3 separate regions of the Homo sapiens genome follow, and regions 2 and 3 are each linked to region 1. Evidence: fine-mapped expression QTL. A gene starts in region 1. Each other region holds a variant in brackets. All regions are shown on one strand. Distances are from middle to middle.

What was found.
Region 2: its variant is fine-mapped to the expression of RFWD3 in whole blood (TwinsUK, PIP 0.95).
Region 3: its variant is fine-mapped to the expression of RFWD3 in thyroid (GTEx, PIP 0.94).

What each region holds. Positions count from the first base shown.
Region 1 is chr16:74,662,039-74,671,958 of GRCh38, reverse strand. It overlaps RFWD3 (ring finger and WD repeat domain 3), which reads left to right and starts at 5,082. Exons shown (of 13, transcript NM_018124.4): 1 at 5,082-5,173. It overlaps MLKL (mixed lineage kinase domain like pseudokinase), which reads left to right. Exons shown (of 11, transcript NM_152649.4): 11 at 1-104. It also overlaps the pseudogene TMPOP2. RefSeq lists a silencer at 5,403-5,552.
Region 2 is chr16:74,468,865-74,479,556 of GRCh38, reverse strand. It overlaps GLG1 (golgi glycoprotein 1), which reads left to right. Exons shown (of 26, transcript NM_001145667.2): 12 at 2,024-2,161; 13 at 4,925-5,011; 14 at 7,146-7,208; 15 at 8,271-8,384; 16 at 9,484-9,572; 17 at 10,494-10,611. Among named protein-coding and RNA genes, the nearest start is that of CLEC18B, 53 kb to the right of the region's middle. The variant A/G (reference allele first, on the strand shown) is at 4,753.
Region 3 is chr16:74,579,176-74,589,867 of GRCh38, reverse strand. The region is part of intron 1 of GLG1 (golgi glycoprotein 1); the gene reads left to right. Among named protein-coding and RNA genes, the nearest start is that of GLG1, 23 kb to the left of the region's middle. The variant CAG/G (reference allele first, on the strand shown) is at 4,330.

The DNA.
Region 1 (9,920 bases):
AATGAGGCCAATCAAGACCAGAAGAACCACTCAAGCAGATCCCAGCCCAAATTGCCCATTCACACAATCAGGAGCTAAATAAATTACTGTTGTCTTAACACTAAGTTTTGTGGTGGTTTTTTACACAACAGAAGTAACTAGGCAGAAACTGTTCAATTCTTCCTCTTGCCCAAGGAATCAAGTACAAACTTCCTATTTGGATATCCATAGCCTTATGGATATCCCCCATACCATACTTTCCAACCTGACTTTCCAATCAGATGCCAGAGTTCTCCTACCAGAGATTGCAAACTCTAATACCCATAGGGCCTAGGAAGGAAACTAAATGAATGATTTGAACCTGGAGGGGGCTTCAGTGGGCAGATGAGCAAGAACAGCGTCTCCTCAACTCCAGTCTATACTTTGTCACATAGAATGGGATCCCAACATTTCTAGAGCTTTCCATTTTGTCAAAAGAGCTAGAAAGTTGGATTTTTCTGTGATGTCCTTATTTTTAAAGGTCAGTATCTCATTAAAAATTATTTTAGGCTGGGCACGGTGACTCATGCCTGAAATCCCAGCGCTTTGGGAGGCCCAGGCGGGAGGATCATCTGAGGTCAGGAGTTCGAGACCAGCCTTGCCAACATGGTGAAGCCCTGTTTCTACTAAAAATACAAAAATTAGCTGGGTGTGGCTGCCACATGCCTGTAATCCCAGCTACTCGGGAGGCTGAGGCATGAGAATCGTTTGAACCTGGGAGGCGGAGGTTGCAGTGAGGCATGATTGCACCACTGCACTCCAGCCTGAGTGACAGAGTGAGACCCTGTCTCAAAAAAAAAATTATTTTAATGCTGATAAGACAAACAAAATATGTCCACATAGGAGCTGCCAGATTTTAATCCCTGCCAGACTCAAACCCATGTTTGTGGTGCTTTCATTCTAGATTTCTTTTTTTAAGACGGAGTCTTGCTCTGTCACGCCCAGGCTGGAGTGCAGTGGTGCAATCTTGGCTCACTGGAACCTCTGCCTCCTGGGTTCAAGCGATTCTCCTGCCTCAGCCTCCTAAGTAGTTGGGATTACAGGTGCTCACCATCACACCCGGCTAACTTTTTGTATTTTTTAGTAGAGATGGGGGTTTCACCATGTTGGTCAGGCTGGTCTCGAACTCCTGACCTCAGGTGATCCACCCGCCTCGGCCTCCTGAAGTGCTGGGATTACAGGTGTGAGCCACCGCGCCCGGCCTAGAGTTTCACTCTTGTTGGCCAGGCTGGAGTGCAGTGGCGCAATCTCGGCTCACTGCAACCTCCGCCTTGCAGGTTCAAGCGATTCTCCTGTCTCAGCCTCCCAAGTGTCTGGGATTACAGGTGTGTGCCACCACACCTGGCTAATTTTTGTATTTTTAGTAGAGACAGCATTTCACCATGTTGGTCAGGCTGGTCTCGAACTCCTGACCTCAAGTGATCTGCCCACCTCGGCCTCCCAAAGTGCTGGGGTTACAGACATGAGCCACCACACCTGGTCTCATTTTAGATCTTATACCTTTGTTCATGGTGTGTGCTTTGCCTAGGATACACTAATCCCTGTCTTTAAAGTTACATTTTTTTCAGAACTCATTCTAAATCATTCAACAGCAAATGTGCTGTCCATTGTTTCAATCACTGAGAAGACAGCAATAAAAATACATTTGGGTCTTGTATTCTAGTAATCATCTCTGGTGAAGAAAATTATGGCTGATTTCTATTACTATTATTATTATTATTATGAGACAGGGTTTCACTGTGTTGCCTAGGCTAGTCTTGAACTTCTGGGCGCAAGTGATACTCCCACCTTGGCCTCCCAAAGTGCTGGGATTACAGGCATAAGCCACCACACTCGGCCTTATGTTTTTATCTTTTACTTATCCTTGATTTTTTTAAAACCTAGAACATGGTTTTTTTCTATAAATAAAAAATGCAGAAGAATATAAACTTAATATGATTATTTTGTAGAACTTACTGGCAGGTATTACTATTTTACTATTTTCCTTCCTTCCTTTTTTCTTTTTTCTTTTTTTTCAGAGGCAGGGTCTGCTGGTCTGGAACTCCTGACCTCAAGGGATCCGCCCACCTTGTCCTCCCAAAGTGCTGGGATTACAGGCATGAGCCACCATGCCCAGCCACTGTTTTCATCTTTAAAATCATTTGTTCTATTTACTGTAGGAGTTACAGTGAAAATTCTCCCTGGTAGATGAATTATTCATACTCTGGCAGACCCACAATTATTATAGGTGAATTTACTATAAGCCTGATAAAGCTTAATCTTCAGGGCCTTTTACTTGCACAGGATGCCTTCCAAGGCCCTGTACCTGATTTTTCCCAACACTTATGTATGAAAATTTCCAGATACACAGAAAAGTCAGTACAATTGTACTCTGAACAACCATATACCTACCACCTAAATTCTACAACTAACAATTTATTATATTTGTTTTATCACATACCTATTTATCTGCTTGTGCCTCTTTCTAGCCATTAATTCATCCTGATTTTTTATGCACTTCATTCCTAAACACTTCAGCATTTATGCCATTAACTGGAGTTTATCTCTCTATGAGCTTTTTTTTGGCGGGGGGGTGGGAAGGTAAGTTTTTGCTGTGAAAAATTTGTGTGAAATGCACAAATCTTAAAGATAGCATTTGATGAGTTTTGACAAATGCATACATATGAGTAATCCAAACTCTATCAAGATCATGAACATTATGGCCGGGCGCGGTGGCTCACGCCTATAATCCCAGCACTTTGGGAGGCCAAGGCGGGTGGATCACCTGAGGTCAGGAGTTCAGGACCAGCCTGGCCAACATAGTGAAACCCCACCGCTACTAAAAATACAAAAATTAGGTGGGCGTAGTGGCACGTGCCTGTGATCCCAGCTACTCAGGAGGCTGAGGCAGGAGAATCACTTGAACCCAGGAGGTGGAGGTTGCAGTGAGCCGAAATCATGCCATTGCACTCCAGCCTGGGCAACAGAGCGAGACCCTGTCTAAAAAAAAAAAAGTTCTAGAGCTAAAAAAGATTATTCATATGGCACAAAGTGATCTCCTACTAGTCCAAAGTTCAAAAACATTTTAATAAAGTCCATTCATATATCTTTTGTTTGCTTTCCAATGGAATACTACGTTTATTGAGGCAAAATCACATTATTTTTAGTTCTTGGAGTCAAAAAGCGTACACGAATGTTCTTCAACACAGTTACTAAAAATACAAGACCAAGTTGAATGTGCCAAAGAGATACCATTCAGTTGGGTTTTCTAGAGTCATCAGGAAGAATATTAGAGAAGGGATTTACATGGTTGGTTTCCATAGCTTGATAGACCAAACACACACAAAAAAACTGCCACAACAACAAACAGCAAAATTTTTATCCATACAGGAATGGAGCGTCCCTTTTTTTTGTATTTTCTCACTTGACGTCTGCCAAGGGAACATACTTAGGAACATATGTAGATGAAAACGACTCCTCCATCCTCAAATCACTGAGTTCTAATGGCCGGCCTGCAGCTCCTTTGATTGTTCTGCGGCAACTAGCACTAATTCTTGTTGGTGTAGTTGCTTCATAGGGGAACATTTCCTTAAGAATATCCCTTTCTACTCTTCTTTCCTGTGTTTTTTTTCTCCCACTTCAGCTCTTGTCAATGGTTTCTTTGGTGTTCTTCTGGGTATGTCTGAGAATTCAGTGACTGGCAGAATAGGAAATGCATGCTTGAAATTTCCAGTCACCCTATTGACAATTAAGGATTCGTTGTTTGAAGCAATTATAGTTTCAGCTATGGGAGTACTCGCTGAAATTACTGCTCCATCTATACGAAAATATTCTGAAGCGTGCACCCTTTTGCTTGGAGTTCTTCTTGACCCTCTTGTAGATTCCCTAGTTAATAATGCCTGCAGAGGTCCGCCTTTTGAAGATCCACTTGTCCATTCAGTCCCAGTTATTCCAGCTTGAGAATAGCTCTCCTTGTGCTCAACTCTTCTTTGCTTGAGGGTTACTGGAGTCTTTACTCCCCTGTTTAGCGGTTCTCTCTTCTCAAACTTGAGCCCAATTTAGAGTCTTCTTCATTTTCACCATATCTGTCAGAATCATTACTTCCATTCTGCCTTGTATTTTCTGCTGAAGAAGAAATTGTTGCTGAAGGAGACGATCTTGATTCTGTTCCTTGCTCCCTCAGTTTCAAAAGCTATTTCTCATACAGCTTCCTGGTTGTTCCCACAATAGGACCACAATTCACTCCGTATTTCACAAGCTGATCCAAAGGATCTTCATTAGTGAGTTCTGTTACATCTAGATCGTCTTTATCATCTTGTCTGGGTTTATCAGTTTTCTTTGTGGCTTTCCTGCCGGCGGCGGGCTCGGAGCCGAGACGGCTGTGGGCTCGCGCTCCTCGTACGTAGCTGGAGAATTCCGGGGGCCCCTTTCTTTTGGCGCTGGCGGCGAGCGGCGGCCCTAACAAGTGATTTGAGACTGTTCAGTAGCTCAGATCCCTTGCAGCGGTTTGAGATTGAAGAGATTATGTAGGCAAAGTATTTTGCGTGAGCTCTTCAACCCCATGAGAGGATACATATGAACTGGACTGTCCTACGCCTCTTTACAGGCTCCGAAATTCAAAATATTGAAATATTTTGAAATTATTCGATTAGCTGCTATCCTTTGGATACAGATAACTCCTTCACTAAAGCGTTAGGGATAAGCAGCAGGAGTCAGTTTTAATATCATCATCCCCATTCCAAAATGGACCGAGAAATCATATAACTTTCTCCCGCCAGAAAGTTCAAATAAAACGCGCTAAAAAAAAAAAAAAAAACCAAACAAAAAAAAAACAAAAAAACCTCCCATTTTTTCCGGGGCGGGTGCAAGGTGACGGACGTAGATTCCTGCCAATTGTAGGAGGCTTCCTCAAGCGCGGTCCCGCCTCGTCAGGACGAACTACCAGCCAATGAGAGCACCGCTGCTTCAGCTATCGGGGGACCCATTGAAGAAGAAGAGTGGGTATTGGCCACAGCGTAGGGCTTCTGTCCAATAGGAGCATGCCTGCCGGCGGCTCTGGCGGGAGCTTGAGCGGCTCCGGAAGTGGCAGTTGGCGTAGGTGCATTCGGAGTGCGGCCGAGGTAACTACCGAGTCTTCGGCGGGCTCGCGAGCCCGGCCGCGGCCTGCTGGTTTCAGGTGAGGAGGGGTGTTGCTTCTCCTCAGGCCTTGGGCCTCTAGCTTCGGGATAAACCTCCCCACGCCTGATTCCTGGATTGGGATTCAGGAGACACCCCACGAGGTGGGCTGCACGCGGGCTTGGAACCCGGCGGCCTGAGGGGATTCGGGCCCTCGGGGCGGCGCCAGTGGTCGGGGCTAAGGAGCCCGAACCCCCGCGCGTATCTGGGTTGCTGGGCGTGGGGGCTGGGCAGGCGAGAGCTCGGGGCGATCACTGAAGGAGCCGAGTTCGCTGCTGCGGGGCCTGCCCTGGCCGGGGTGGGAGGTCGCCCGGCCCTTCCCCCGAGAGCCTAGCCTCGGGCTCCTCAGCGGCGTTGCCTGCGCCCGCTCTGAGCGCCGATTACTTCATCACTTTAAAGTTGATGGAAGAACTTCATTTTTAATTTCATCACGGAAACTGTGGAGTAAAGACTTGTATTATCCCTGTTTTACAGGAGAACAAGTTGAGCCGAGTTTAGGAAACCCGCCCAAAGTTTCCCCATGTAGTAAAAGAACAGGGATTTAATATCTATGTATCTAATCAATCTATCTATCTATCTATCTATCTATCTATCTATCTATCTAATCTGTCTATCTAATCTATCTATGTCTTTCTTTCCCCATGTAGTAAAAGAACAGGGATTTAATTTCCTTCTTTCCCTCTCTCCCTTCCCCTCCCGTCTCCCTCTCCCTCCTCTTCCCCCTCCGCCTCTCCCTCTCCCTCTCTCTTCCTCCCTTTTTCCTGTTATAAAGAGAAAAAGGTGTTATAAAGAGAAAAGCGGTGGCTCAGGCCTGTAATCCCAGCACTTTGGGAGGCCGAGGCAGTCGGATCACCTGAGGCCAGGAGTTCGAGACCAGCCTGACCAACATGGAGAAACCCCATTTCCCAGCTACTCGGGAGGCTGAGGCAGGAGAATCGCTTGAACCCGGGAGGCCGAGGTTGCAGTGAGCTGAGATCACGCCATTGCACTCCAGCCTGGGCAACAAGAGTGAAACTCCATCTCAAAAAAAGAAAGAAAGAAAGAAAGAAAAGTCTCCCTGTTGCACCCAGGCTGGAAGAGCTCACTGCAGTCTCGAACTCCCGGGCCCCAGGGATCCTCCCACCTCGGCTTCCCGCAATAGCTGGGACCACAGGTGCGCGCCACCACGCCCGGCTCATTGTTTTATTTTTCTTTTTTCTTTCTTTTTTTGAGATAGAGTCTCGCTTTGTTGCCCCTGCTGGAGTGCAGTGGTGCGATCTCGGCTCACTGCAACCTCTGCCTCCCGGGTTCAAGCGATTCTCCTGCCTCAGCCTCCCAAGTAGCTGGGATTACAGGCATGCGCCACCACACCCGGGTAGTTTTTGTATTTTTAGTGGAGACGGGGTTTCACCATATTGGCCATTCTGGGACTCCGACCTCAAGTGGTCTGCCCTCGGCTTCCCAAAGTGCTGGGATTACAGGTGTGAGCCACCGCGCCTGACCTGTTCTATTTTTCTTTTTTGGTAGAGATGGGAATTTCACTGTGTTGCCCAAGCTGGTCTGGAACACCAGAGCGTAAGTGATCCATCCGCCTGGGCATTTCAGTGTCCAGGGATCACAGGCGTGACCCTCTGCACCGGCCAGAGCAAAGATTTGAACACTTCCCCCGCCCACCTCTTCTCAACCTTTAATTGAGGGGCTTTCGTCCTGCCTGTTGTGGCCATTGATTGAAACCTGAGTAACAAAGATGACAAGTCTGAGGTTGACATTTTAAGCACCGCTCACAGCACACATAAAAAACAGCGTTTGTGTGACATCCTCAAGGTTTGGGGTGCCCAGCCCATGGTCTCTCGTTCTAGGCACCTCCGACTGGCCTACAGTGGTTAGGAAGCTTCAGCTCCAGAACTGCACCGTTCCATAGAACTTTGTGCGACGAGAAAAGTGTTCTGTATTTCTGCTGTCCAGTATGGGAGTCACCCGCCCTATGTGTGTTTCTAGCAGTTGAAATGTGACCTGCACGACAAAGGAACTTATTTTATTTCTTTCTTTTTTCTTTTTTTAGACGGAGTCTTACTCTCTCTCCCGGTCTGGAGTGCAGTGGCGTGATCTCGGCTCAATGTAACCTCCACTCTCCGGGTTCAAGGGGTTCTCCTGCCTCAGCCTCCCAAGTAGCTAGGACCACAGGTGCACACCATCACGGCTGGCTAATTTTTTTGTATTTTTTGTAGAGACGGGGTTTTGCCGTGTTGCCCAGGCTGGTCTCCAACTCCTGGTCTCCAGCTACCTGCCTCAGTCTCCCAAAGTGCTGGGATTATAGGCGTGGGCCACAGCTCCTGGCCGAATTTGATTTTTATTTAATTTAAATAACCATATGGGAGTAGACAGTGCGGCCCCCTAGATTCTGCTCTTTTTAGTCCATTTCTCCCCTTTGTCTTCCTGAAGGCTGAGTTGCTTAATGTCTCTTGAGTACATCTAGAAGTAGCTTGGGCCTTATGTTCTGACACACAATTCTTGGGAGACTGTCGTTGTACCCTAGAAACATTAAAAGCTTTTAGTTAGGCAGCTGCAGTAGCTCACTCCTGTAATCCCAGCACTTTGGGAGGCTGAGGCAGAAGGGTTGCTTGAGCCGAGGAGTTGAAGACCAGCCTAGGCAACGTGGGAAACCCCATCTATACAAAAAATGTTTAAAACTTGAAGTATCTCACATTGTTCAGTTTGCAGACTTTCTTTCCCACTTATTTTCAGTACTGTGCCACTCTCCATCCTGAGTGTAAGCCTGTGTGGTTCAAACCTCCAGTTTTCTCGTGCATAGGGGGAGAAGGGCTTTGTTCTGTGTTTTGTTTTAGCTGGCTGGTGTTTGAGTAGGAGTCAAGCTAACTGCTTTACTGGCTTTTAACCAGCCCTTCTCTTTTAGCGCCATCTTTCAATATTGCCTTTTGTGGTACCTGGTTTTTACAGTCCCTTTAGTGGGAATCAGCTTGCTTCTCAATAACACACCTCACCCCAACCACTGTGCCCTTTGCAGGCTTTGAGTTTTATCTTTTGGCTCTGCTAAGCAGTCATCAATCATCAGTTTCTCCTTTATGGCCTTAAAAAACTGGTTTGCATATCATACCCTGTTTGCATTTGTGTCGTCCTGGTTAATTTATCCTTTCTTAAAAAAATGTCTCAGGTTGTGGGGGTCATGTTCGTGGGTTTTAGGAATGACTGGAGTGGAGAGAGAAAGATACATATATGTACTTCGTCCACTATGTTTATTAGAATTCCTTCCATTTATTCAGCCTGCACCAGTCTGGCCTCTGACCCCACCACTTCAGGGAAACTGCTTTTTTAGGTCACCTGTCATCCTCATGTTGCCAAATCTAGCGGCCGTTCTTCCCCCCAGTAGCACTTGACACTCAATTGTTCCTTCCTTGAAACATTGTTTTTCCAAGACACCACATTCCCATGTTTCCTCCTACTTTATAATCTTCCTTAACTGGCTTCTTTTACTCTGTTGTACTTTTAACAGTAGTGTCTCTGACTTTAGTCTTCAGCCCTCTTCTGTCATTCTGTTCCTCAGGTGGTTTAATCTGCTTTGATGATTTTAAGAAACATGAGTATTGGCCGGGCGCGGTGGCTCATGCCTATAATCCGAGCACTTTGGGAGGCTGAGGCTGGCAGATCACCAGGTCAGGGGATCGAGACCATCCTGGCTAACACAGTGAAACCCCGGCTGTACTAAAAATACAAAAAATTAGCCAGGCGTGGTGGCAGGCACCTGTAATCCCAGCTACTCGGGAGGCTGAGGCAGGAGAATGGCGTGAACCCGGGAGGCGGAGCTTGCAGTGAGCCGAGATCGCGCCACTGCACTCCAGCCTGGGCAACAGAGCGAGACTCCATCTCAAAAAAAAAAAAAAAGAAGCATGACCATTCTGAAGATTCTTAAAGCTGTCTGTTTGTTTTCATCTCCACTGCTACCACTCTTGCCTAGGTCTCTCTGACCTCTGGTCTGGACTCCCACAATAGCCTCTACACTGGTCACCTAGCTTATGCTCTTGCACCCCTACAGTGCATTCCTAACATAGAAGAAACTCCTTACCAAGGCCCATAGGCCCTTTAATAATGGTGTCCTGTTCATCAGTGAAACCCATGCTCATCAGGGACCTATGCACTGATTTCCTTCTGAGACTCTTCTTGGCTCTTTGCATAGCCAGCTGCTTTTAATCCTTCATGCCTCAGCCCAATTTTCACTCTTTAAAAGAGTACTTCCCTCACAATTGTGTCTTAGTTGGTCCTCTTTGTCTCCTCAACCCCAAACATCATAATCTATAATTTTTTTCATGTATTTGTTTATTGACATCTTACTTGCTAGAATCTAAACTCTGATACATGGGGTCTTATCTGTTTTTGCCTCTAGGGTGTCTTGTCTGCATAACAGGTGCTTAATAACTATTAGTTGAACCCCCATTTCCTCATAAGTCAGATGAAAATAAAAGCACGTGCCTTACTTCACAAAGTAATTAAGGGGATAAGTTATACTGATGTACTTTAAAAACTAGGTGGTAGGGAGGCACAGTGGCTCAGTCCTGTTGTCCTGATGCATGAGGAGGTAAGGCCAGGCATTCAAGACCAGTTTGGGCAACATAGGAAGCCTTCATCTATATAACAAAAAAAAATTTTTTTTTTTAGTTTAAAAACTAGGTGGTAGTTTTCAAACTGATACAATGGAATTAAAGATAGGAAACATGAAAAGAACATAGGTGCTTAATAAATATTTGTTGAATACG
Region 2 (10,692 bases), 190 kb after region 1:
CCAGAATGAGGGGACTCAGAAGGAAATGGCATACATCAGTTGCTGCTCCCTAACCCAGTGTTTATACTGCTGTGTGAGAAAACGTGGGAATTTGTTTTTTTTTTTTTTTTCTCTCCATATAATGAGCCTCTCATTAACCATGGGGGCTCCCACATCCCGGCATCTTTCTGGTCACTATAGTGACTAGGGGGTAGGAGGTTTATTCTCTTTTAAATAAGAAAGAGTTGGAGTCTGTGGTGCTGGTTTTCTTTTCTTTTTTTTTTTAAATTGAGGTGAAATTCACATAACATAAAATTAACCTTTTTTTTTTTTTTTTTTGAGACAAAGCCTCACTCTTGAATGTGTCTCACTGCACCCCAGGCTGGAGTGCAGTGGTGTGATCTTGGCTCACTGCAACCTCTTCCTCCTGGCTCAAGTGATTCTCCTGCCTCAGCCTCCCGAGTAGCTGGGATTACGGGTGCCTGCCGTCATGCCTGGCTTTTTTTTTTTTTTTTTTTTTTTTTTTGGATTTTTAATAGAGACGGGGTTTCTCCATGTTGGCCAGGTTGGTCTTGAACTCCTGACCTCAGGTGATCCACTCACCTGGGCCTCCCAAAGTGCTGGGATTAGAGGTGTGAGCCACTGCGCCTGGCCAAAATAACCCCCCCCTTTTTTTTTTTTTTGAGACGGAGTTTCACTCTTGTTGGCCCAGGCTGGAGTGCAGTGGTGTGATCTCGGCTCACCACAATCTCCGCCTCCTGCCTCACCCTCCAGATTAGCTGGGATTACAGGCATGCGCCACTACGCCCGGCTAATTTTTGTATTTTTAGTAGAGATGGGGTTTCTCCATATTGGTCAGGCTGGTCTCGAACTCCAGACCTCAGGTGATCTGCCCGCCTCAGCCTCCCAAAGAGCTGGGATTACAGGTGTGAGCCACCGCTCCTGGTCTTAACCATTTTAAAGAGAAAAATTCAGTGACATTTAGTACATTTACAGTGTTGTGTGGTCATCATGTCTGTCTAGTTTCAAAACACTCCATGACTCCAAAAGGAAACCCTGTGTTCATTAAACAGTTACTTTCCATCCCTCCTGCCCCAGGTATGCTGGCTTTTTTTTCTTTTTTTGCAAGAGAGACTAACTGTATCTGTCAATAACAGCTTTGTCATGGCCCTTGGAAAAATACTAGTTTTCACCTGCTTTACCCTCTGCTAATTCTTCATAGCTCATCTAGAAGAGTCCAGTCCTATCTCATAATGTTATATCTACATTTTCCTGCTTTTTCTGATTTAGGTCAATTTGAACTCATTTCTCCTGAGTCAAGTGTATATGCTCTCTTGAATTGGATCTGACCTTCTACCTGGTGTTCATAGACTGACACATTAGTTTTGCTAAGCAAAACAACAAACACAAAACTTTCCAACTAACCTAGTCTGAATGAAGCCAGTTCACTTTTATCAGGATACTGTCATAAAAGAATGTTGTTTATATAGTATATTAGAAACTGCTGAATATGTATAATCGCATTGCTAAAGATATGGGCTTTTCGAAGCCTCTTGCACATTTTATTTATTTATTTATTTATTTATTTATTTATTTATTTTTTTGAGACGGAGTTTCGCTCTTGTTGCCCAGGCTGGAGTGCAGTAGTGCAATCTCAGCTCACCACAATGTCCACCTCCCGGGTTCAAGCGATTCTTCTGCCTCAGCCTCCCGAGTAGCTAGGATTACAGGCATGTGCCACCATGCCTGGCTAATTTTGTGTGTTTAGTAGAGACAGGGTTTCTCCATGTAGGTCAGGCTGGTCTCAAACTCCCGACCTCAGGTGATCCGCCCGCCTCGACCTCCCAAAGTGCTGGGATTACATGCGTGAGCCACCGCACCTGGCCGCAACATTTAATTTTTATTCTGGAAGATATTTGAGGTATAAAATTTGGGAGATAAAATACAGGGTTATTTGTTAGTTTCCTCATAGCAGGTTTATCTCATATCTTTGTGTTTTTGTTTTGTTACCTTTCAAGTATTTAGCTCATTTTTTCTCATGCAGCTCTCACGGGAGTGCCGAGCTGAAGTCCAAAGGATCCTACACCAGCGTGCCATGGATGTCAAGCTGGATCCTGCCCTCCAGGATAAGTGCCTGATTGATCTGGGAAAATGGTGCAGTGAGAAAACAGAGACTGGACAGGTAGGTGACATCGCTTTCTGTTTGTCTTACAATAATGATGATGTTAATGTTTAACATTTTATGCAGAGTACAAACACCATAAAATCCATCTCTCTTTACCTTACAGATGTGATTTGTTGTATTGTTCAATATTTTCTCTGGAAGAAATTCTCAGGAAAATTTTCTCTCTGGTCTTTGTATCAGGAATAGTTGGCAGTGAGTTTGTGTTTGCATTATAGTTATTGTATTTTGTAATTGATTATTTTCCCTCTTCCTGTTGCTTATTAAAACTTCTAGAGCCAATGGTATGGCCTGCCTCTTACAGGTATATAAGATTTCATGGTAGGCATTTTTGTAGAAAGCTTACTACTGGCTCCATTTCACATCCTCTTTCCTTTCCTTTTTGTTTCTCTTCTTTATTCATTTTACTCATTTTTAATTCATTTTCTCCATTAAGTCCTTTTGAGATAAGCAGGGTGTAAATCTGTGCGTATGTGAGTACTGGTCTGCATGAATAGTGGGCATGCCCTAGAACAGTCCCAAAAAACATGTAGAAATGGAATTTTTTCTCACCTGGTTGACAAATTGAAGCTCAGAGAAGTTAAGTGTATACATTCCCTTACCTAAAATTCAGTTCAGTTCATTATATAGCCTCTCCATCTAGGAAGCAGAGGGAAGGAGCAGCCCCCAAAAATTCCCTGAGTGCTGTGATTGGCTCCTTAGGATTGTGTCCCAGTTTAAGGGAAAGAAGGAAAGATGCATGACTGCAGGTCATGTGGGAAGCTAGCTGTCTTCCATCTGAATGCAGGATACTCAGCAGTAGGAATACTGCGTGTTTAAAGCCACATAAATAAGGAGTGAACTCAGGTTTCTGGGTTCCATTTGTACCACTACAAAACCCCCTCTGGAAGTACAGTATGAAAAAGTCACACGTACAGGAATTGGACATTTTAAAGGAGAAACATGGTTGCCTACTCAGGTCTGTTGAGCATAGGACTATCATGTTCAGCAGTCTGTTTCCTGAGCCTGCTACAGTTCTGTTGGGTATATTGTTAGAAAATGCTTATAGTTGAGCTTTCTGTTGCCTCTGTCCAATGAAACAAGGGATATGGTGATTTGGAATCCCAGAAAATAGTTTCCTTTAGAACCCCGAGTAAAGTAAACTTTAGAAAGCTGCACTACATTGCAGCCCGTCATGGAGAAGCTAAACTTAAGAATTCTTTTTTTTTTTTATTTTGAGACAGTTTCACTTTGTCACCCATGCTGGAGTGCAGTGGCACGATCTCGGCTCACTGCAACCTCTGCCTCCCGGGTTCAAGCAATTCTTGTGCCCCAGACTCCTTAGTAACTGGGATTACAGGCACCTGCCACCACACCCACCTGATTTTTTGTATTTTAGTAGAGACAGGGTTTCACCATGTTACCCATGCTGGTCTCTAACTCCTGAGCTCAGGCAATCCACCTGTCTTGGCCTCCCAAAGTGCTAGGATTACAGGTGTGAGCCACTGAGACCAGCCAGGATTCTATTAATAGGATGTTTCTCTTAGCCATTTATTTTACTCCCAAAAGTTTGGGGTATTTTCCTTTAGCTTTTTTATTTCTTCTTCTTCTTCCATTCTGGCTGTTGTATAATTCCTACAACTCCTCTCTTCCCCTCACATTCTAATTCTGAAACAGAGAGATTCTTGCAGAATAGTAAGTTAAACTTGATCCTTTAACAGAGCACTTTGCTAAGAAATAGCTGTTGATATGCTTTGTGAAAGTGAGCTGATATTATACTTGAAACCTCTAAACCTGTAAACCTCTAGAAGGAATAGTAATAGACTAATGCTACAGATAGCTCCAGCTCGGTTTCCAAAGCCCACACAAGATAGCTTTTAAGTACCCAAACCCTAGTGTGTTCACTTGTTTTTCTTCAGAGGACCCTTTTGATGTGTACTGGAGTTAGAATCCCAGATCTGACTTGCAGGAGCTATCAGTTGTATCCTGTGTTCCAGACCCCTGGTTCCCAATTACTTTGCCAATAAAGAGTCTTAAAATAATCTGTGCTCTTCACTGTGAATTTGTCTGATGATCATTATTAAAGTGCATATTTAAAATGAGAGATGAGAAATTATCAAAGCACAGATTGAAAATAGAATCAAGGCCTGATAAGGTTTTTAGACTTTGAGGACACTTGAAGATTGATTCTCCTTGCACTTGTAGATTTGGTCTTCTGAGGGATTTGCACAGCTCTTTTTTTTTTTTTTTTTTTTTTTTGAGACGGAGTTTCACTCTTGTTGCCCAGGCTGCAGTGCAGTGGCACGATCCTGGCTTACTGCAGCCCCCGCCTCCTGGGTTCAAGCAATTCTCCTGCCTTAGCCTCCTGAGTTGCTGGGATTACAGGCACCCACCACCACACCCGGGTAATTTTTGTATTTTTAGTAGGGATGGGGTTTCACTGTGTTGGCCAGGCTGGTCTCGAACTCCTGACCCCAGGTGATCTGCCCACTTCAGCCTCCCAAAGTGCTGGGATCAAAGGTGTGAGCCATCATGCCCAGCCTTTGCATGGCTCTTGTGCCCACTTGGCCCTCATAACCAACCTGCTACATGAAGTAATTATCTTTTCAACA[A/G]TCTCAGTCTGGGGAATTAAACAAAGCTTTTGTGTCCTGTTCAGTGAGGTAATTTTAAAAAGAAGAGAAAGGAGGACCACTGAAAAGGGAAGTGTCATGACGCTGATATCTCCCCTTGCCTTGTTCATGTATGTGACTGATAAATGCCAGTGGCTTGCCTTTATATTTGCAGGAGCTGGAGTGCCTTCAGGACCATCTGGATGACTTGGTGGTGGAGTGTAGAGATATAGTTGGCAACCTCACTGAGTTAGAATCAGAGGTAAGTGGTATGCAGCTTACTCATTGGAGGAGAGTGGCTGCCAGCATCCTGGCCTTTTGTGTTTGATTCTACTGTTTCTAGACTCCTGAGAGTGCAGATTTTCTGTCAATCAAAAGAAACCTGATCAAATTTTCCATGTTTGCTTTATAAAGAAGTATATTGTGTTGCTTTGTGAGCTCCTTCCCTCATTTCTCTAGAACAACACTCTATACAGCCCTTTGGTTTTCTTCATAAATTAGGTTTATCATAGTCATTAGACTTGCCTCTGTTTCTCCCTTAAGATAGCAGCTGTACGGCCGGGAGCGGTGGCTCACGCCTTGAATCCCAGCACTTTGAGAGGCCGAGGCAGGCGGATCTCGAGGTCAGGAGTTCGAGACCAGCTTGCCAAACATAGTGAAACCCCGTCTCTACTAAAAATACAAAAATTAGCTGGGTGTGGTGAAACACGCCTGTAGTGCCACGTACTTGGGAGGCTGAGGCAGGAGAATCACTTGAACCCGGGAGGCGGAGGTTGCAGTAAGCCTAGATTGCGCCACTGTACTCCAGCCTGGGCAACAGAGTGGGAGACTGTGTTTCAAAAAAAAAAAAAAAATAGCAGCAGTACTTCACATCACAGTCACATTCAAGAGCAATCTACACATTCCCGTTCTCTCATCCCTCGCTCTTTTAGTTAGGTCATTTGGTAATGTTTGTGTGTTTCAGAACATAAAAGCTGAGGACTTCCAGCTAAGCATGGAAGATTGAATACGTATGTTTATCCCTGTTCCATCCTGAAACCCACTAAAATATTTTAAAAATGGGATTAGAGGCCAGGTGCAGTGGCTCACACCTGTAATCCCAGCACTTTGGGAGGCGAGGCGGGCGGATCACAAGGTCAGGAGATCGAGACCATCCTGGCTAACACGGTGAAACCCCGTCTGTACTAAAAATACAAAAAAATTAGTCAGGTGTGGTGGCGGGTGCCTGTAGTCCCAGCTACTCGGGAGGCTGAGGCAGGAGAGTGGCGTGAACCCGGGAGGCGGAGCTTCCAGTGAGCCGAGATCACGCCACTGCACTCCAGCCCGAGCAACAGAGCGAGACTCTATGTCTCAAAAAAAAAAAAAAAAAAGGTCAAGACCATCCTGGCCAACATGGTGAAACCCCGTTTCTACTAAAAATACAAAAATTAGCTGGGCGTGGTAAAACATGCCTGTAGTGCCAGGTACTTGGGAGGCTGAGGCAGGAGGATCACTTGAACCCGGGAGGCGGAGGTTGCAGTGAGCCGAGATTGCACCATTGCACTCCCGCCTGGGCCACAGAGCCAGACTCCGTCTCAATAAAAAGAAAAAAAAAAAGGGGGATTAGAAACCCTCATAAAGCACTGGGATGTTATTTAGAAATACAGAGGAGGGCAGCTAAACATGTTAAAGTTATTTTGTGGGGCCAGAAATCAGAGAAGTGGGGAACTACCATTTTGTCTTAAACCTTTTAGTACTCTATTTGAATTGTCATAATGTAAAATTACGTTTCTCAACCAGTTCTTTTTTGCTTTCTAGTTTTCAGAAGTTCATTGCCTTCTCTCATTTCGTCGTCATCTCTCACATTATCATTGTCATCATGGACTTATGAGAGCAGTCTGGGTGTATAGCTCTTTAAAGGAAGGTGTTTTTTCAGGAGCTAGTGTTGCACGGGTTTCTCTCTTTAAAGGCATTATTAGTATGTGTTCCCCAGTAACAGTGGTTTGGCATCTGCTTTGAGGGCAGTGCTCTGGCTTATGAGCTTATAAACTGAAGATGGATATCAGTTACCCCTGTTTTCATTTTGAACTACTTAGCATTTTGGGAAAATCTGCAAAGGCTTTGCATACTCTAATGTTATTGCTACATGTGTTTTTACCTCACTTTTCTTAATTCTGCCTTCTCATTTGTTCAGGCCGAAAGGGAATATGTCTTTAAAAATTTGCCTTTCAAAGTATAACGGAGGAGCAGTTCTATATTTATTCTGGGGCTATCTACTTCAAATACTAGAATCGTTTCCAAAAGTATGTATTAGATTATTTGCCCATCAGATATTACTGATTCAGAAAGAGAAACTGCTCCTCCTCCACCCTGGCTCTTTCTAAAGCAGAAGTATTAATATATTTAATTTTCTACAGGATATTCAAATAGAAGCCTTGCTGATGAGAGCCTGTGAGCCCATAATTCAGAACTTCTGCCACGTAAGTGATGTCTGGAGGAGCAAGGGTTAAAAACAGAAACAAATTGACAGGGACTCTCCCCTGAGTATCTCAGACTCACCTCTGTCTGCAGCATGTATTACTCTTGAGTGTTAGCCAGCTTTGACAAGTTAAAATTAAAAATGTAAACAGGCCGGGTGTGGTGACCAATACCTGTAATCCCAGCACTTTGAAGCCAAGGAGGAGCACTTGAGCCCAGGATTTCAAGACCAGCCTGGGCAACATGGCAAAACTCTGTCTCTACAAAAAATAGAAAAAATTAGCTGGGCGTGGTGGTACACACCTGTAGTTCCAGTTACCTAGGGGGCAGAGGTGGGAGGATCACTTGAGCTCAGGAGGTCGAGGCTGCAGTGAGCCGTGATTGTGCCACTGCACTCCAGCCTAAGCAACAGAGTGAGACCCTGTCTAAAAAAGAAAAAGTAAACAAGATCGAGAGAGAGATGCTACCATCCTGGAACCTGTGTTTGATTAGCTTTTGTAGGTAAAAACAGGTATGTGGCCAGCAGCAGTTACTGAGTTGCCCTTTTTAAGAAGAGATGGAACAGGGAAACCCCCATTAGTATGCAGGGTTGATTCCAGTACATCAGCCTAGGAATTGTTAGCATCTGCCCAGGAATTGTTAGCAGTAATAGTGGCTCCTTCTTCCAACTGTCTCCTAGTACCTCAATATTGAGTGAATTCTGACTATTTCATATTCATTTACTGAACTATTTAAATTGTGGGAGTGAAACATACCCAGGAACCATTAGGATCTGACAGTTGGGAGGCTATGTTAGATATTGTCCCAAAAGCCAGCTGCTTTTCGGAAAGTGAAAAAAAAAGCGTATATCATGTCTTATACGGAACACAGTGCTGTGTTAGTTTTATGCCACTGAATGTATACCATTGTGATTCTTCAGGCTTATTTTGATTACAATTTATGGTGTGTCTTTTTTTTGTGAGGGCTTCTAGAACTAACCTTGCTTGCATTTGTTTCGGACTGGGCTACAAGTTTTGTTCATTAATTGTTACCAATGAAGTGTAAATGCATGCTGTCTTCCCCAGGATGTGGCAGATAACCAGATAGACTCTGGGGACCTGATGGAGTGTCTGATACAGAACAAACACCAGAAGGACATGAACGAGAAGTGTGCCATCGGAGTTACCCACTTCCAGCTGGTCAGTGACACCTGGCTGCCAATATCCCATCATAGCTGCCTGGATGTTGACTGAATCCTTTCCTTTTTTGGAACATCAGAGCACCTCTGATGTTCTGTTAAAAGTCATTTTTTTCCAGCCAGGCGTGGTGGCTCACACCTGTAATCCCAGCACTTTGGGAGGCTGAGGTGGGTGGATCACTTGAGGCCAGGAGTTCAAGACCAACCTGAGCAACATGGTGAAACTCCGTCTCTACTGAAAATACAAAATTAGCCAGGCATGGTGGCACACACCTGTAATCCCAGCTGTTTCAAAGGCTGAGGCAGGAGAATTGCTTGAACCTGGGAGGCGGAGGTTGTAGTGAGCCGAGATCGCCACTGCGCTCCAGCCTGGGCAACAGAGCAAGATTCCATCTCAACAGCAACAACAAAAAAATCATTTTTTCCAGCCGGGCATGGTGGCTCACGCCTGTAATTCCAGCACTTTGGGAGGCTGTGGCAGGCTGATCACCTGAGGTCAGGAACTCGAGACCAACCTGGCTAACATGGTGAAACCCTGTCTCTACAAAAAATACAAAATTAGCCTGGCGTGATGGCGGGTGCCTGTAATCCCAGCTACTCGGGAGACTGAGGCAGGAGAATCACTTGAACCCGGGAGGCAGAGGTTGCAGTGAGCCGAGATCGCACAACTGCACTCCAGCCTGGATGACAAGAGAGAGGCTCTGTCAAAAAAAAAAAAAAAAAAAAATTACAAATATATGTCCTATTTTTATTTAGGATGGATGGATGGAAGGAGGGAGGGAAGGAAGGAAGGAGGGAGGGAAGGAAGGAAGGAGGGAAGGAAGGAAGGAGGGAAGGAAAGAAGGAAAGGAAGGAAGGAGGGAGGGAGGGAAGGAAGGAAGGAAAGGAAGGAAGGAGGGAGGGAGGGAAGGAAGGAAGGAAGCCTGCCTGTTGTAGGGGGAGTACTGGAGAGATGAGCAGGTCGTGATGTCTCACGTGTGGGTCAAGCCATGCAGGGTCTTGTAAACAGGCTTGTGAGAGCTATATGAAAAAGTGCGCCCTACCACTACTGACCACAAGTTGCCACAAAACTTCTGACTTTCTTTCTCTTTACCTTTCAGGTGCAGATGAAGGATTTTCGGTTTTCTTACAAGTTTAAAATGGCCTGCAAGGAGGACGTGTTGAAGCTTTGCCCAAACATAAAAAAGAAGTATGTAGCTTGTAGTTGTTTCATTCCACTTTCCCGAAGTTCCTCTTAGCTCCGGAATGAGTATGCGAGATGTTAGGCAGCCCTCCTGCTGCCTCGTGGGGTTAGCCCTGGAGGCCTCCCGCATCTCTCCTTTGATTAGCGTGGCAAACACTCGGACTGTCTGGACAGAGCATCTGGCGATGGTAGTTCTCACATGGAGGTCCCATAGGCTAAAGGAGCATTTTTAATTTTTCCAGGTCAGGCCATCTAACTGACCAAGTAGGGCTGGATTGTGTACTTAGAGAAGCAGGGTGCAGTGTGAGTGAAAGAGGCGAACTGACCTCTTCCCTGCGTCGTCCCGTTATGTCATCTCATCTAAGATGCAGCAGTTTTTGTATTGGATTAGATATTTAGTGAAGAAACAGAATCTTTATTCATTTAAGAATTAAGTCTTTTTGAGGAAACTGATGAGCTTTTTCAGCGTGACTGTCCAAATTCTTCCATGTTGCTCTTTGAAAGGACCATTTCTAGAACACTTGCCCTCATACAAACCAAATTCCCAATTTGCTCAGGTTTCTCTACCTTTCAGGAGTGAGTTTCACAGTAGGTCAAAAGTACAGTCCTAGAGTTAAGAGCAGCATTCCTCTGTGGTCACATGTTTTTAACACAGATGTTGAACTGTCGTTGCACACATGTGCCCTGTGTGGCTTCCCCTTCTGTCAGGAATGTAGTCAGCATTCATGCTGCTGCCTGCCTTTCATGACACCCACAGTCAAATTGCAGCTTTTAGCACCCTGAAAAAAAATACAGTGAGCCTTACAGGAAAGACATTCCCCCAAAGGGCATCTTGAATTCTTAATGGTGTGACCCCCCCCAAGCCCAGCTCTCAGGCCATCTGCCCTTGTGTGGCCCCAGCCAGCCTCAAGCTTCTTTCGTCTGCAGGGTGGACGTGGTGATCTGCCTGAGCACGACCGTGCGCAATGACACTCTGCAGGAAGCCAAGGAGCACAGGGTGTCCCTGAAGTGCCGCAGGCAGCTCCGTGTGGAGGAGCTGGAGATGGTAATGCCTCCCAGCCTCTGCTCCCAGAAACCACAGTGGGCCAGGGCTTGGAAAGCTGGGGAGAGGCTAGGGCAAGGGGGA
Region 3 (10,692 bases), 82 kb after region 1:
CTTCCCGTGTTCAAGCAATTCTCCTGCCTCAGCCTCCTGAGCAGCTGGGACCACAGGCGTGTACCACCGTGCTCGGCCAAGAATTTTTACTATTGGTATACTTTCCTTTTCAACTTGAGAGTATATGTGAAATAGGAGAAATTAGAGCACTGAAAGCAGAAGTCAGAAGACATTGTTGTGTTTCCCTTCCTCTTGTGGAAATTCCCATTCTTTAGCCCAGATTCTCAGCCTGCTTGCCTCTGCTTCGCACTGGCTCCATACACATCTTGCTGCCCCACACCCGCAAATAAATAGTGTAGTGGTGTGGGCTTTTGGAGAGTACAGAGTTACAGCTTCAGAGTTTACAGGGCTTATATGTAAGTGTTATTTTTGGGAAAATATTTTATATCAGTGGTTTGGGAATTTGCTGCACCAAAATATTTCCCAGTGCCCTTCCCTCAGCACAGCCCGCTGCTTCTCTTCCCCTGCCAGCTAGGTCTGCTTTAGGCATTGTTTTCTTCCTTCATTTTTGTTAGATTGAATGAACTATAAGAAATTACCAATATTTCATCATATTTGACTTATAAAAACATTTTCATATGGTTTAACATAATTGTTCTTTTTTTTTTTTTGAGACAGAGAGTTTCACTCTTTCACCCAGGCTGGAGTGCAGTGGCGCAATCTTGGCTCACTGCAACCTCTGCCTCCTGGGTTCAAGTGATTCTCCTGCCTCAGCCTCTCGAGTAGCTGGGATTACAGGTGCACGCCACCACGCCCGTCTAATTTTTTGTTGTTGTTGTTGTTCTTTTTGTAGAGACGGGGTTTCACCATGTTGGCCAGGCTGGTCTCGAACTCCTGACTTGAAGTTATCCACCCCCCTCAGCCTCCCAAAGTGCTGGCATTACAAGCATGAGCCACCATGCCCGGCCACTCACCAAATACATTTGATTTAAAAAAAAAAAAGGATATTGGTCTAACAACCTTTTCCCTATTTGATTATTCTTAGTCAAGTTGCTATTTAGCTTTCAGTTTATGGAACCCTTTTAATCTTATTTGTAGCTCTTGATAACCATGTGTGGTAGATATGACAGATATGAGACTTATTTTACAGGTGAAAAACCACGAATCAGATAGATTTTTATTTGCCCAAGTCACATAATGTTAAGAACAGGCCAAGTGTGGTGGCTCATGTCTGTAATCCGAGCACTTTGGGAGGCTAAGGCGGGTGGATTTCCTGAGCCTAGGAGTTTGAGATCAGCCTGGGCAACATGGCGAAACCTCATCTCTACAAAACATACAAAAATTAGTCAGTGTGGTGGTGAGAGCCTGTAGTCCTGGCTACTTGTGAGGCTGAGGTGGGAGCATCACCTGAGCCTGGGAAGTCGAGGCTGCAGTGGCAACAGAATGGGTAACCTGGACATCAGAGTGAGACCCTGTCTCAAAAAAAAAGAAAGAAAGAAACAGAGCTTAAATTCAAATCCAAAAAGCTTAAATTCAAATCTTTTAAAATTCAAAGCCTCTGTCTTTCCATGTTACCACATTGCTTCTCTGTTATTTTTCACATTTACATAGATAACATATTTTCATGCTATTTTTTTTATATTTTTATGCCCCTACCATTTTTATTTAAATCCATCAACAAATATTTGATCACATACTATTTGCCCACTATTTCTTCAGACAGTTTTTTTGTCCCTCTTTCTCTCCTGGGCTCTAATCTTATGTAGGTTAAATTGATTGCTATTGTCCCACAAGTGGGCTCTGTTTTTAATCCCCCCACCAACGCTCCCCCTGTTTTTTTTCTCTCTGTGTTTCATTTTGGATAATTGCTATTGCTGATCTTCAGGTTCACTGATGTTTTCTTTTGTAGTTTTCAGTCAGCTATTAATACCATCCAGTGAATTTGTATTTTAAGTATATTTCACCTATAGACGTTTGATTTGGGTGTTTTATTTATATATTCGATTATCCATTATGTTCATGTTTTTCTTTACACCCTTTAGTGTACTTGCAATAGCTGTTTTTTTCTTTTTTGAAGCGGAGTCTCACTGTGTCGCCAGGCTGGAGTGCAGTGGTGTAGTCTCAGCTCACTGCAACCTCCGCCTCCCAGGTTCAAGTGATTCTCCTGCCTCAGCCTCCGGACTACAGGCACGTGCCACAATGCCCAGCTAATTTTTGTATTTTTAGTGGAGACGGGGTTTCACTGTGTTGGCCAGGATGGTCTTGATCTCTTGACCTCGTGATCGCCCACTTCGGCCTCCCGAAATGCTGGGATTACAGGCGTGAGCCACCGTGCCCAGCCGTAATAGCTGTTTGAGGTCCTCATGTGCTAATTCCATCATGTCTGTCATTTCTTGATCTTTTTCTATTGATTAAGTTTTGTTATTAGTCATATTCCTGCTTTACAAGTGTGGTAATTGTTTATTAGATTCAAGGGGATCCCTCCACAAATCTCCTGTGACCATTCTCAGTACAGAACTCTTTATTCTCACTCTTTCTTGGTTCCACTATTCAAATCTTTCAAATTCTAGCTGCTTTAGATACCCTAAAGTTTAATTTCTCTCCTCTTTTCAGCAAGACTATCCAATTCTGTTTGGGTTCCCTCTCCCTGTGTTGCAGCCGGGAAGCCACTTCCATACAGTAAGCTAGGTAATCATCGGCTCACCTGGTTTGTTGCCTTCTCTCAGGGATCATAGTTAATGCTGCCTGTTGTCCAGTGACTGAAGGTTACGTCATATATTGTGTCTCGTTCACAATGGGAGTAAGGGAGATAGTTTCCATAGTAGTTAATCCTCATGAGTGGAAGTAGAAATCATTACTTCTTGGATTTTAACTTCTGACATATTAAATGTGGGAAGGAATGGGGAGAATTTGTTAGAAAGAGAGATTAATGAGGCCAGGTGCGGTGGCTCACGCCTATAATCTCAGCACTTTGGTAGGCTGAGGCAGGCAGATCACCTGAGGTCAGGAGTTGAGACCAGACTGACGAACATGGTGAAACCCCATCTCTACTGATAATACAAAAATTAGCAGGGTGTGGTGGTGGGAGGCTGTAATCCCAGCTACTTGGTAGGCTGAGGCAGAATTGCTTGAACCCAGGAAGTGGAGGTTGCAGTTAGCTGAGATCACGCCACTGCACTCTAGCCTGGGCAACAATAGCGAGACTACATTTCAAAAAAAAAAAAATTAGAATTACAAATGTGTGTGTATTTTGATCCAAAGTTCTGACTTTATTAAAACAAAAAAATTAGCCAGGCGTGGTGGCAGGCTCCTGTAGTCCCAGCTGCTCTGGAGGCTGAGGTGAGAGGATTGTTTGAGCTGAGGAGATTGAGGCTGCAGTGAGTTATGATTGTGCCACTGCACTCCAGCTTGGGTGACAGAGCGAGACCCTGTCTCAAAAAAAAAATTATCTTTCCATTGCCCAATGGAAAAATATTTAAGCATGATATAATTTCATTGTGTGTCAAGGTGGTCAACTTGTCTTGTAATTGAGTTGAGCTAATAATAAGCCCTTTACCAGTGTACAAGATAAAAGATTTCCTTTCAGTTCATGTGCTAATTAGGACAAAACTAACTTCCATAAAAAACCCAAAAATATCAGTGGTTGAACACAAGAGAAGTTGTGGGGGACTGTGATGCAGTCATCTGGTGATCCAGAGACCCAGGTTCCTTTTATCTTGTGGTTCCATTCGTTTCCTAGGGCCTTGCCTTTGTTTTTGTTTTTGTTTTTTTCCTTATCAGCTCTTTCTAACTCATTGAGATGAAATTCACTTACCATAGGATTCACCCTGTTTACCACCTGTTCTTGTTTTTTTTTTTTTTTTCCGATACAGAGTCTTGCTCTGTTGTCCAGGCTAGAGTGCAGTGGTGTGATCTCGGCTCACTACAGCCTTTGCCTCCCGAGTTCAAGCAGTTCTCCTGCTTCGGCCCCCCAAGTAGCTGGGATTACAGGCACCCGCCACTACACCTGGCTAATTTTTGTATTTTCAGTAGGAACAGGGTTTTATCATAATGGCCAGGCTGGTCTTGAACTCCTGACCTCAAGTGGTCTACCCACCTTGGCCTCCCAAAGTGTTGAGATTACAGGCATGAGCCACCTCATCCGGCCAAATCTTACTTTAGATAACTAAACTTTATTTGTCATAATTTTACTTAGAGGCCTTTTTTTTTTTTTTTTTTGAGACGGAGTCTCAGGCTCTGTCACCCAGGCTGGAGTACAGTAGCGTGATCTTGGCTCACTGCAAGCTCTGCCTCCTGAGTTCACGCCATTCTCCTGCCTCAGCCTCCTGAGTAGCTGGGACTACAGGCGCACACTACCATGCCCGGCTAATTTTTTTTGTAGTTTTAGTA[CAG/G]ACGAGGTTTCACCCTGTTAGCCAGGATGGTCTCAATCTCATGACCTCATGATCCGCCCATCTCAGCTTCCCAAAGTGCTGGGATTATAGGCGTGAGCCACCAGGCCCGGCCTCTTTTTTGTTTTTTTGAGACAGAGTCTCGCTCTGTTGCCCAGGCTGCAGTGCACTGCTGTAATCTCAGATCACTGCAGCCTCCACCTCCTGGGTTCAAGTGATTCTCGTGCCTCAGTCTCCCGAGTAGCTGGGACTACAGGTGTGTGCCACCACGCCCAGGTAATTTTTTGTATTTTTAGTAGAGATGGGGTTTCACCATGTTGGCCAGACCAGTCTTGAACTCCTGAGCTCAGGTGATCTGCCTGCCTTGGCCTTCCACAGTGCTGGGATTACAGACATGAGTCACTCACTGTGCCTGGTCAATTTTACTTAGAGTTTTTGAATCTGCGATTTAAAGATAGGGTTTTAAAAATTTTTTTTATTTCAATAGATTTTTGGGGAACATGTGGTGTTTGGTTACATGAATAAGTTCTTTCTTTAGTGGTGATTTCTGAGATTTTGGTCCACCCATTACTCGAGCATTGTACACTGTACCCAGTGTGTAGGGGTTTTTTTGTTGTTTGTTTGTTTTTACAAGTCTCGCTCTGTCGCCAGGCTGGAGTGCAGTGGCACAATCTCAGCTCACTGCAACCTCTGCCTCCCAGATTCAATAGATTCTCCTGCCTCAGCCTCCCAAGTAGCTGGGACTACAGGCGCGCACCACCACACCCAGCTAATTTTTGTATTTTTAGTAGAGATGGGGTTTCATCATGTTGGCCAGGGTAGTCTCGATCTCTTGACCTTGTGACCACCCGCCTCAGCCTCCCGAAGTGCTGGGATTACAGGTGTGAGCCACCGTGCCCAGCCCCCAGTGTGTGGTTTTTTTATTCCTCAACCGCTTCCCACCCTCTACCCCAAGTCCCCAGAGTTCATTATATCATTCTTATGCCTTTGCCTCTTCATAGCTTACTTAGCTCCCTAGGATTTAAGGATAGGTTTCTAAAGTGAAACTGAAACTAATTGGTAAGAGTGTTATAAATAATATTAATCATGCTTTGTAAGAAAGATACCCTAAGAGATGGTTTATAAATGTATTGCTAACAAAACTTCGTTAATTAATGTTAGGCATTTATGATGCAATTAATAGTAACATTTCCAAGTTCATATTATTGTCTGCAAGGAGAATAAAGGAGAGTCAAAGAAAACAGTCAATGTTTTTCGAAGCCGTGCATGGCTAGTGGGAAGGGTCCTGAGCAGCTGGCATTACTGTTCTTGTCAAAGCTGGCTGTCTATTGAAATGTCTATATTAACTTAGTTTTGTTTTCGGGGGAACTAGGAGGTCTATAAACATTCTTGGGTAGGAGAATGTCATGATGAAATAGTTAAGGAAATTACTCGGGGCACTATGAATTGAAGTGAGGAAAATTGAAGGCGCTGAGAAAGCTGCTGTTACAATGAGACCTCAAAACAGACTTGGGCCAAAGGAGACTAGTAGCAAAGGAGATAGAAGTGGGATTGATGGGGACTTCTTACCTAGGAAAAATTTACAGTGCTTTTGTTCATTCGTTTGACAAATTTTGGGTAAATATTATTTACTGTGTGCCAGCACCTTAATTGTAGGTGCTGGGAATGTGGTGATGATGATACCCTCAGCTCCCCCTTCTAAAAGACATGGTCGAGTGGAGGACGTAGCCATGGTGAGAGCTTTGAAAGAGAGATGCTTGGACATTGGCTAATTGGAGTCTGGATATGTCTCCCTGAGAAGATGATGATTGAGCTGAAGGAATGATAGAATTTAACCAAGTGAAGAGAAGTCAAAGTTTAGGCTGGGTGCCGTGGCTTACTCCTGTAATCCCAGCACTTTGGGAGGCTGAGGCCGGTGGATCACTTGAGGTCAGGAGTTCAAGACCAGCCTGGCCAACATGGTGAAACCCTGCCTCTGCTAAAAATGTCATAATTAGCCAGGTGTGGTGGCGTGCGCCTGTAATCCCAGCTACTAGGGAGTTGAGGCATGAGAATTGCTTGAACCCGGGAGATGGAGGTTGCAGTGAGCCAAGATCACGCTATTGCACTCCAGCTTGGGGGACAAGAGCGAAACTCTGCGCCCAACCCCCCAAAAAAGTCAAAGTTTAACTGTTACACTACCTCCAAAAATATGTAATTTGTGCTGAATTTGAAATGACAGCTAGGCATTTCAGGCAGTTTCCAGTAAGAGGATATAAACTTGGAACTAACTCTTGAACTGAGTCTAAATTTTAGAGTCATCCTGCTTATAAGGCTATAGTTGGGGCTATGAAAATGGCCAAGCCCTCTTAAAGAATGTGTAAATAGAAGACTATGATTCCAAGGACTGAGCCCTGGGGACAGCTTGCGATGAAGGGTTGGAAAGAGGCTTGTGGAGGGAATTATAGGTAACAGGAGGAGTGGTTGGGAGTTACAAGAAGATTTACAGGAGTTTAGTTGTGGAAGCCAAGGAAAGGGAAATTTTAGTTGTGAGAGTCAAGAAAAGAGAAATTTAAAAGGTAGTAAACCCTTGGGTAACTAGAGTAGCACAGCTAAAGTTAATGACTGAGAAAAGAGCATGGTTTCTGGTAAAAGAGATAGAATACCTTCTATAGAACCCAGATTTTTATTTTATTTTATTTTATTTTATTTTATTTTATTTTATTTTATTTATTTTTTTGAGAAGGAGTCTCACTCTTGTCACCCAGGCTGGAGTGCAGTGGCGCGATCTCGGCTCACTGTCAAGCTCCACCTCCCGGGTTCACACCATTCTCCTGCCTCAGCCTCCCAAGTAGCTGGGACTATAGGCGCCCGCCACCACGCCCGGCTAATTTTTGTATTTTTAGTAGAGACAGGGTTTCACTGTGTTAGCCAGGATGGTCTTGATCTCCTGACCTCGTGATCCGCCTGCCTTGGCCTCCCAAAGTGCTGGGATTACAGGCGTGAGCCCCCACGCCCGGCAGAACCCAGATTTTGACCGAAAAGTTTGATAGTGAAGAGAAGGTGAGACTATCTAAAAGGGAGGACATTCCTGTTAACAAAGATCTTTCAGGATTAAGGAAATCCCAGCACCTTGGGATGTTGAGGCAGGCAGATCACCTGAGGTCAGGAGTTCAAGACCAGCCTGACCAACGTGATGAAACCCCATCTCTACTAAAAATACAAAATTAGCTGGGCATGGTGGCGCATGCCTAAAATCCCAGCTACTTGGGAGGCTGAGGCAGGAGAATCACTTGAACCTGGGAGGCAGAGGTTGCAGTGAGCTGAGATTGCCCCATTGCACTCCACCCTGGGCAATAAGAGCGGAAGTCTGTCTCAAAAAACAAACAAAAAAACAGATTATGGAGATCTATTTTTTTATTTATTAAAATATTTTTCACCCCAATCTTACTATCTAGGAAAATCTGTTTTAAAGGCAAAGAAACAGGGAACCAGTAGAGAGGGTGAGAGATTGGAAATGCTGGAGAGGAAGAGGGTGCATGTAAAATGCTACGCAAGAGAGGAAGGAGGAGAGGGTTCAAGCCAATGTGGTGTCACAGAACATGATTTGTACTTTGAATTTGTTTTTGTTTTGTTTTGTTTTGTTTTTTTGAGACGGAGTCTCACCGTCGCCTGGGCTGGAGTGCAGTAACGCTATCTCGACTCACTGTGACCTCTGCCTCCCAGGTTCAAGCGATTGTCCTGCCTCAGCCTCCCGAGTAGCTGGGATTACAGGCGCCCGCCACCAAGCCCAGCTAATTTTTTGTATTTTTAGTACAGACGGGGTTTCACCATGTTGGCCAGGCTGGTCTCGAACTCCTGACCTCAGGTGATCTGCCTGCCTCAACATCCCGAGGTGCTGGGGTTTCCTTAATCTTGAAAGATCTTTGTTAACAGGAGTGTCCTCCCTTTTAGATAGTCTCAGCCTCCCAAAGTGCTGGTATTACAGGCATGAAGCACCTCCTGGCCTTTTTTTTTTTTTTTTTTAAATCTTACATTGAATCTCCATAATCATTAAATAACAACTTCCCATTCCAGAGTCCCTGGCAACCACCATTCTATTTTTTATCTCTGTGAATTTGACTACTCTAGGTATTCCATGTAAGTGGAATCGTGATATTTGTCCTTTTATGTCTGGCTTATTTCACTTTTAATGTCTTGAAGGTTCATCCATGTTGCGGCATGTGTATCAGAATTTCCTTCCTTTTTAAAGGTGAATAACATTCCATTATACGTATACACTGCATTTTGTTTATCTGTTCATCTGTTAATGGACACTTGAATTGCTTCTACCTTTTGGCTTTTGTGAATAATGCTGCTGTGAATGTGGGTATACAAATATCTCTTTGAGACCCTGTGTTCACTTTTTTTTGGTATATACCCAGTAGTGGAATTACTAGGTCATATGGCAATTCTATTTTTAAGTTTTTGAGGTTAGGGCATACTGTTTTTCACAGCAGCTGCATCATATTATATTCCCACCAACAGTTCAGAGAGTTCTAATTTCTTCACATCCTCACCAACACTTATTTTCTGTTTGTTTGTTTTTGAGACGTAGTCTCGCTCTGTTGCCCAGGCTGGAGTGCAACGGTGCACTAATTTTTTGTATTTTTAGTAGAGATGGAGTTTCACCATGTTGGTCAGGCTGGTCTCAAATTCCTGACCTCAGGTGATCCTTGCCCACTTATTAATCAGGCTGTTTGTATTTTGTTGTTGAGTTGTAAGAGTTTATTATATATTCTGAATATTAACCTCTCATCAGATAGATGACCTGCAAATATTTTCTTCCTTTTCATAGGTTGCCTTTTCACTCTATTGATTTGGTCGTCTTCAACTTTGATGTAGTTTACTTTATCATTTTCTTTTGTTGTCTGTGCTTTTAGTGTCATAGCCAATAAATTATTGCAAATTCAATGTCATGAAGCTTTTCTCCTATGCTTGCTTCACAGTATATTGTAGTTTTAGATCTTACATTTAGGCCTTTGATCCATTTTGAGTTAATTTAAAAAAAATTTTTCTTTTTGAAATAGGGTCTCTCTCTGTTTCCTATGCTGGAGTGTAATGGCGTGAATATGGCTTACTGCAGCCTTGACCTCCTGGGCCCAAGCACTCTTCCCATCTTGGTCTCCTGAGTAGCAGGGACGACAGGCAGATGCTACCAGGCTTGGTTTTTTTGTTTGGTTTTTTTTTAGTTTTTTTTGTAGAGATGGGGGTTGTGCCATGTTGCTCAGGCTGGTCTCAAACTCCTGGGCTCAAGCAATCCTCCCACCTCAGCCTCCCAAAGTGCTGGGATTACAGGTATAAACCACTGCACAGGCGTAAAATTTGGTTTTTTGATTTAGCATCTTTTATACCTGATAAATAGCCTTTAGGATTTAGGCCTGTGTTTTAAAAAATGGTGCAACATGAGATTCAGCTCTTCTGGAAAAGTTATCCTAAGGTTTTTTGTTTGTTTTTTTGAGACGGAGTCTCACTCTGTCACCCAGCCTGGAGTGCAGTGGCAGGATCTTGGCTCACTGCAACCTCTGCCTCCCAGGTTCAAGCGATTCTCCTGCCTCAGCCTCCAGAGTAGCTGGGACTACAGGCACGTGCCACCACGCCCAGCTAATTTTTGTATTTTTAGTAGAGACGGGGTTTCACCATGTTGGCCAGGATGGTCTCTATCTCTTGACCTTGTGATCCACCTGCCTTCGCCTCCCAAAGTGCTGGGATTACAGGCGTGAGCCACTGTGCGTGGCCATGCTAAGGTCTTCATATGAAGATCTCTTGAGGGTTTTTTGTTTTGTTTTGTTTTTTGTTTTTGAGACTGAGTCTTGCTGTCACCCATGCTGGAGTGCAGTGGCCCAATCTCAGCTCATTGCAACCTCCGCCTCCCTGGTTCAAGCCATTCTCCTGCCTCAGCCTCCCTAGTAGCTGGGACTACAGGTGTGTGCCACTACACCTGGCTAACTTTTGTATTTTTAGTAGTGATGGGGTTTTGCCATGTTGGCCAGGCTGGTCTCGAACTCCTGACCTCAGGTGATCCACCCACTTCGGCCTCCCAAAGTGCTGGGATTACAGACGTGAGCCACTGCGCCTGGCCAAGGGTTTTTTGTTTGTTTGTTTTGAGACAAGTTCTCATTTTGTCACCCAGCCTGGAGTGCACTGGCACAATCACGGCTCACTGCAGCCTTTACCTCCCAAGGCTCAGGTGATCCTCCTGTCTCAGCCTCCACCACCCCAGGAGCTGGGACTACAGGCGCATGCCACCACACCTGGCTAATTTTTGTGTTTTTAGTAGAGATGGGGTCTCACCATGTTGCCCAGGCTGTTTTTTTTGTTGTTGTTGTTTGTATTTTTAAGAGAC